Homo sapiens: one gene and its partner. The protein of the gene in region 1 binds, or shares a complex with, the protein of each later gene. Each region holds a gene or a part of one and is shown on either strand. Other genes may lie near its edges.

The links.
Region 2: INTS1 (region 1) and INTS12 share a complex: the UniProt entries of both Homo sapiens proteins name them as parts of the integrator complex.

Annotation. Positions count from the first base shown.
Region 1 is NC_000007.14:1,494,107-1,497,921, reverse strand, and holds part of INTS1 (integrator complex subunit 1), read left to right. Parts: intron 1-607; coding exon 608-784; intron 785-1,657; coding exon 1,658-1,766; intron 1,767-2,368; coding exon 2,369-2,489; intron 2,490-3,028; coding exon 3,029-3,106; intron 3,107-3,815. UniProt on the Homo sapiens protein: Component of the integrator complex, a multiprotein complex that terminates RNA polymerase II (Pol II) transcription in the promoter-proximal region of genes.
Region 2 is NC_000004.12:105,688,020-105,691,834, reverse strand, and holds part of INTS12 (integrator complex subunit 12), read left to right. Parts: intron 1-2,554; exon of another isoform or gene 2,555-2,704; intron 2,705-3,815. UniProt on the Homo sapiens protein: Component of the integrator complex, a multiprotein complex that terminates RNA polymerase II (Pol II) transcription in the promoter-proximal region of genes.

The DNA of each region.
Region 1 (3,815 bases):
TCCTGTGCATTGGGTCCCTCGGTTAAGCAGGGGTCCCTGTAGCCCTGGCTGTAGGACCCTTGGATTTCCGTGTCTCCTTTGAAGCGGGCTCGGGAGATGCTCCCATCGCCACCAGCGCATTAGGCCTCCCGGTGGGCTCTATGGAGTGTGAAACACGAGGGAGGCACAGCCGCTCTCAGCTCCGCGTTCAGTCTTCGCGGCCTGGCATTTTGAGACAGGAGTGCGTCCTTTCAGATCCTTTCAGATCTTGGGTGGTGGCCTTTGGTTTCCGTTCAGCCCGTGGCGCACGGGTGGGCTGAGATGGCACACGCGCTTCTATGGCTTTGCCGCCTGGTGTCCCGCACCCCCAGCTTCCGTTAATTAATCCTCCTCATTTCACGAGGACCGACTCCCCACCTGCCGGTTCTCAGAGAGGGGAATCAGATGTGATCCCTGCTCGCCAAGGGCTGGCAGCCAGTAGAGCAAGGAGCCCGCCACCCCGCACCCCACACTGTCTGAGACCCACTGCAGCGCCCTCGGGCGCCATACCTGTTGGTGCTGCGGGAAGGGGCCTGTGACAGGGACAGCACTGTCGGGCAGCCTCCCACGCGGCCTCTCTCTGCCCCAGTTCCTGGCCATGGTGTTCCAGGACCTGCTGACCAACAAGGACGACTACCTGCGGGCCTCGCGGGCCCTGCTGCGGGAGATCATCAAGCAGACCAAGCACGAGATCAACTTCCAGGCCTTCTGCCTGGGGCTCATGCAGGAGCGCAAGGAGCCGCAGTACCTGGAGATGGAGTTCAAGGTGCCAGCCCTCGCCGCTGGGGCGCCTTTCCCTCACTGCGGGTTCCACGCGCCGCCATCCCCCTCGTCCTGGGTCCCATGCACACTCCACCCCTTCGGATGCTCTGGCTGAGCGTGGGTACGGGGATGAGTGAGGCTGTTTGCGGTGACGCGTCCCAGAGGGTAGCATAGGCTCTGTCCTGTGTGAGGACCTATGAGGGGCTGACCAAGCACAGGGGAACTGGCAACCCCTAGGCTGGATGGGATGAATTGCTGCCGGCAGCAAGGGGAGCACGGGAGCAGGGAGGCAGGGTGGGGCTGCGGGCTGCCTGGCTGGGTTGGAGACTTTTCGAGGGCTGTGGAGGGAGCTGGCGCTGGAAGGCACAGTGAGGGTGGATCACAGAGATGCCAGGTCCCTGCAGCCAACTCGCAGCCAGCCTGCCGGGGTGGCCTGTTTTGCGGACGGGGCTTTGTGGATCTCTGTTGACTGAACCTCCCTCCTGTGGCCAGACTAGGACCTTGTGGGCCACCGGCCCTGGTGCCCCTCCTGTCAGGCCCCTCTCCCAACTGGTCCTGGGCTCTCTCTCTGGATCCCTGCTTGTGTGTGTGTATGTGTGCGCATGTGCAAGTGTGTGCGTGCTGCACCCACGTGTTTGTGGAGTGGGGCTCCCGGGTGTCCCTTCTGGATACAGACCCCGTGCCGCGCCCACGTGGGTGTGGAGTGGGGCTCCCGGGTGTCCCTTCTGGATACAGACCCCGTGCCGCGCCCACGTGGGTGTGGAGTGGGGCTCCCGGGTGTCCCTTCTGGATACAGACCCCGTGCCGCGCCCACGTGGGTGTGGAGTGGGGCTCCCGGGTGTCCCTTCTGGATACAGACCCCGTGCTGCACCTGCAGGAGCGCTTCGTGGTGCACATCACCGACGTCCTGGCCGTGTCCATGATGCTGGGCATCACAGCGCAGGTGAAGGAGGCCGGCATCGCCTGGGACAAAGGAGAAAAGAGGAGTAAGGATGTGGGGGTGGCCTGGCCCTGCTTGGTGGGGGTCTCGGGTCCAGGCTGGTGGCTGGCGGCTCTCCGAGGCTGCACTGTCCCCTGAGCGCCCGGCAGGAGCGGTCCCGCAGCACGGCTACTCGGGGACACGGAGCCTGGAAGCTGCCGTCCCCGTTCCTGTCCATCCGGGCCTCACCCCAGCTGCAGGCTCAGACCCTGTTCCCATGAGCGTCCTTTGTGTGCTCCAGTTCTGGCCCAGCATGGGGGCATTGCAGGCGTGGTGGCCCCAGCCACGGGCGGGAGTGGGGAGGGGAGGTGGTGTTTGGGGCAGTCCGGGTGTTTGATTATGGGTTCACAGGAAGGCTGGGCCGCAGAAGCCCTCTAAGCCATTGACCGGAGCGAGTCACTCGGAACAGGAGGATTCCAGTCACCCACGCACGCGTCAGGGTCACTCCATGCCTCCCAGGGTGTTATTCCAGCTGGGAATCGTCCAGAAGCTGGGGGTGCCCTGAGTTACCCCCTCCCAAGTGCCAGCATTGAGTTGGACCCCCAGGGGTGCCTTAGCCCCTCATGGCCCATGGCTCGGATGGGCCACTAAGCTGCGTGTCTGTTTCAGACCTGGAAGTGCTCCGCTCATTCCAGAACCAGATTGCCGCCATCCAGCGGGATGCCGTCTGGTGGCTCCACACTGTGGTCCCCTCCATCAGCAAGCTCGCCCCTAAGGACTACGTGCACTGGTGCGGCTGGGGCCCTGTACAGCCCCTGTCCCACACCCCACTGAGCCGGGACAAGCCGGGGCCCCGCACAACCCCTGCCCCAAACCCCACTGAGCCAGGACAAGCCAGGCCCCGCACAGCCCCTGCCCCACACCCCACTAAGCCGGGACAAGCCAGGCCCCCACACGGGAGTCTGTCCCCTCTCTGCGGACAGCAGCAGCCGTTAGGCTCCAGGCAGGTCACCCTGTGCATTGGAGCCTCCCGTGGAGCCTCTGCCTTGGTTGGGGTGGGGCTGCCAGGCTGGGGCTGCATTTCTCTGCAGCGATTTTGTAAAGGGCTGTCCAGCCCGGCAGCCCCGTTCGGCCGCTGTGCAGCCTGGCAGCCCCGTGAGTGGTCCCTGGGTTCTTTGGTGGTGCTGTGAGGAGGTGCTGAGCTTGGGCACCAGGCAGCCCGGCCTCTGAGCGCTGGGGCCCGTGGGAGCGGGGTCCCTTCCCTGGAACTAACGGGGCTGGTCCCTGAGCACCCACATCATGACTGAGGGCTCTTCTCTGCCTGCCCAGCCTGCACAAGGTGCTGTTCACAGAGCAGCCGGAGACCTACTACAAGTGGGACAACTGGCCACCCGAGAGTGACCGCAAGTGAGTGCGCTGCCGCCTGGGGCTCCTGTGTGCCGGGCTGGGCGGGGCTGCGGGGTGCCGGGCCGGCTGCGGCAGGAAGGGCCAGTGGGAGTTGGGCGGCTGTTCCCATGGTCACAGCACCATCCTGCTCCTCCTCCACAATCCTGGGTGCCACCCTTCTCCCACTCCCATGCTGGCGTCCCAGCGCCACTGTAGGGATTCAGCTGCCGTCTGCGTCCACGTGACTCCAAGCCCCAGCCGCAGCCTCCCCCGGACCCCCGCCTTCCAGTTGCTTCCAGGGCGTCCACGGGCACGCCACCCTTCACGCAGTCTCAGATGCACCGTCTGCCCCTGCTTCTGTCCAGACAGCCGCACACTGTCCTTCCCCAGCCGGCTGGCCTCACAGCTCTGTCCCCCTTCAAGCCCCATGGGTGACCCCGTGGGTTCTTGGTCTACACTCCCCTCCAGCCCCGCCTGGGGCTCCTGCCAGTTCACCCTGCCCCCACCTCGTGCCCTGGGCGCTCTGTTCACCTTCACTGCGGCCTTCCGGTCAGGCTTTGGAGGTGTAGGGGTTATCTCTGTCTCCTGGCCCCCAGCTCCTTGAGGGCAAGAACCATCTAGAGGCCTCTGTGGGGTGGCAGAGTCTCCGTGTGGTGGTTGTAGGAACCAGTGACTGTGTGTGTATCCCCAAAGGCCTTGGGGTGGGGGTAGCCTCCCCTTCTCCCCTTGT
Region 2 (3,815 bases), on another chromosome or scaffold:
ACATGTGATTAATATTTCTATTGCTAAAGACCAGACCATGTTATGTGCATTTTTCTCTTTTTAGTTTTATCTAATTCTAATATAGATAAAACAAGATTGGTGACACACAAATTATGAATATTCCTTACTAGTCTGTCAATGTATTGACAAACATTTTAAAATACCATGCAGCACTGAGAAGTGGTGAGATACAAAGCCCCACTCTTTGTTGAGATCTGGTAAGGAAATATAGAAAATTTCTGAGTGAGCTTAAACCACCGCATGGATAAGATGTGTACAGAGGCGATATTTATATGTGCATATCTGTCTTTCCAGCTGCATTTCTCTGTTGCTTAGTCTTTCCTTCTCATTGTCCTCAAGTGACCATTACCTCATTCTTCCTATGTACTTTCTCTTTTTACTGTTGACTAACATACCTGCCTTTAATATCATAGTGAAATATCTTTTCATTTGTTATATTGGATAGTTTTCTAACTTTTATTCACTTATAAAATAGATAAATGATAAATGAATTTCATAATTTTTCTTTTAAAGAAAACAAGAAATTGCCATAATGTCTTATTCTCCACCTCTCCCTCCCACTTCCATCTCTCTTCCCCTGCCTTAAATTAGTGATTCTCAATTGCAGAGTTCTCATGTCTGTTAATCAAATGAATTTCTATATAAATTTGTCTAACCAATATATCTTTTAAAGGTCAGAAGTACTTAGTTAAAAGTAAAAACTCGGGATACCCATTTTACTTTTTAATCAGTTAAATCAGAAATAGGAAGTGTTTTTATTTATTCCTATGAAATAAAAAGTAGTAAATGAAAAGTGTGTATATCAATAGTGTGTATATTTCTTACTTGTAACAGGAAATTTCTATGACAAGTTACAATCTGTTCTGCTCAGTTTGGTTTTTATTTAATTTATTATTTAAACTAGCCCTCCAGGATCTCAAGTGAAATTATTACAGATGAGCAATGCATTCCAGAGCATTGATAAGAAACCACTAAGAATTGGAAATTGTCAAAAGAAACAAATTGTGACAATAATCTATCTTTCTTTAGTATGTACTCAACTGTTTCATTATTATTATCACTTTAGCTCCTTTAATATCTAAAGTAAGCACTGTTCTTCCCCCAAGTTTTTTCTCCTCCATTTTTTCTGATTTATGTCAAATCTATGTTTATGGTTCTAACCCTCTTCCTGGGTGAGCTTCTATAGCTAACTAGATAGTCTATAGATACTTTAAGGTCAATATATTTAAAAGTGAAAGTTGTTCTATTATCCAGTTTTTTTTTTCTGCAATTGCCTGAATTAGAAAACATCTTTGATGCCTCTTTTAATTCCATATCCCATTGTTTACCAGATTTGCTAATTCTACCTCTTATATGTCTCTGAAATCTATTCATTTCTCTTTTATTACCCTGTTCCACAAATCCATTACTTGTCTATTGCAATAGCCACTTAATAAATCTCCTTGCCTCCTATCAATCCACTTTGCTTACTATCATTAGAATTCTTCTAAAATATTTACCTACTTATATATGCCCAGTGGCTCTCAATTACTTATATAATGAGATTATACTCATTAGGATGCATATATGGACCTTCTCTTTTTGACCCGACTCTACCTTACAGCCCTCTCTCTCACTGCTTCAGCATACACATTCATACACTCTGGCCACTCTGACACAGACTAAGTGTGTCATTCCCTGAATATGTGGAGAACTTTCATGTTCCCATATTTTCTGCTTCTCAGCTTCTTCTCTTCATCTGGGATACTGTTTATTCTTTTATCTGCTTTGCAAATAATATCTAATTTATCAGTAAGAGCATGTATTCATTGGCATAGCACTTAAGCAGAGCTCAAGACTGGACACATTCTACATTCTGTTGTTCTTAAGTTAAATAAAATGAAGCAAATGTAATTTTTTTCTTTTTCTGAGACAGGGTCTCACTCTGTTTTCTAGGCTGGAGTGCAGTAGCATGACCATGGCTCACTGCAGCCTTGACCTCCCAGGCTCAAGCAATCCTCCCACCTCAGCCTCCCAAGTAGCTGGGACTACAGGCATGTGCCACCAGGCCTAGCTAATTTTTTTTTTATTTTTTGTAGAGATGGAGTCTTGCTACATTGCCAGGGCTGGTCTCGAACTCCTGACCTCAAGTGATCCTCCTGCCTCGGCCTCCCAAAGTGCTGGGATTATAGGCATGAGCCACCATGCCAGGCTAAATGCAGATTAGTACCAGAAATCAACAGTGAATCTGGTCTGTGTGTCCAGAAGTCAAAGTACTAAATGGGGAGTCATGGCTAATATTATAACATGACTAGAATACACCAAGAGCAAATGTGGGGAAATACCAAAAGACATGATCTGAAGTGAGCCTAAAGATCAGAATCCAGGAAATGTAAGGTTTAATGAGATAATTTTGGAACAGTGGGGATTCTAAATACAGTCATTCTAACTATAATTGCTTTGAGTGAGATTCTCATATGTGCATTGGTTATTGTTCCAAGGTATCTCAAAGATATTATAAATAGGACCTGATATCCCCTTTCTCCTCAAACAGATTCCTCAAACTGGGGCAAGTTCTGCGGTACACATCATTGTAGGAAGACCTAGTTAAGAATGTTGTGATCGTGTATGGCAGGGTCCAAGGTTATTCTTCAGTTCTATAGTTTTCTCTCTACGCAGTAGTGGAGTTTTTCCCCAGCTTCAGGTGAGAGACTCATATCACTTATTGCAGTGGTTCTCAATCTAAGGTAGTAACACACTCCTATTTTGCAGCATTTAGAAATAGGTGGGGTTTTTAGTACTGCCATTCTGGCAGTTAGTGCCTTAGTGGAGAATTTTATACATTTTGCAATGTTTGAAGCAGTCATCCAATGAAAATTTTAGTACCTTTGTTGAACAAAACTGAATCAGTAATTATATCCTAGTTCCCTAAACTAGTATTACCAGTAAAGGACAAAGGGTTGTGGGTATTTCTTACTCAGTTTCTAAGATGGCTGGATAAAACAGGGAAGGCAGAAGATTGAAACATGATCTCACAGGCAGAAGTACTTCCTGGGGCTTCATCATAATTAGTCTTTATCTGTTAAAACATACAAGTTAGGTGGGTCCTCAGAGTCTAACCTCAGGAGTGCTAGATGTGGGTGGAAGGCAGTGTTAAGATTGAAAGCCATGGTTTTGGAGCCATATGTTTCTGTTTTACTGTGAGGGATGCATTCTCGTAACATGGTTTTGCAATGAAGGATAAGATGGCTCTGCTTTCCTGCTAGTACCAGTAATCAAGTAATCAACAGTGAATTACTTCGAACATTCTTAATATTCTTGATCTAATTGTTGCTTTATAAGTGATGTTGAAGGTAGGTGTACTTTGATGTGGAAGGTATGTAGTATAAAAAGTGATACGAATTGAGATTTAAGGACCCAAACTATATAGTATGGCAAACAGTAGCCCAAGATTACACAAGAAGGCCCAAACAAGAGCAAAATAGGCCAAATTCTGGCTTCCAGAAATGGTGACAAATTGTTAATAAATTCCCTGGTATAGTACTGTATGGGCTTATGAAGATTATCAAAGACTATGGAATGGCTGGCGGGAAGCATCTTTCCCCGTTCAGTATGCATGGATTTTTCTGGATTCAGTTTGATTATCCTTTGTAAATAATAATGATGAATAAACAGTAACTTTTTGTTAGCACTCAACATTTTCCAGACACTATGCTAAACTCTTACATAATCATAATTCATCCTCATAACCCACCTTTGAAACAAATGCTATTACCATTTTACAGATGAAGAGAATGAGGCTTTTAGAGATTCAC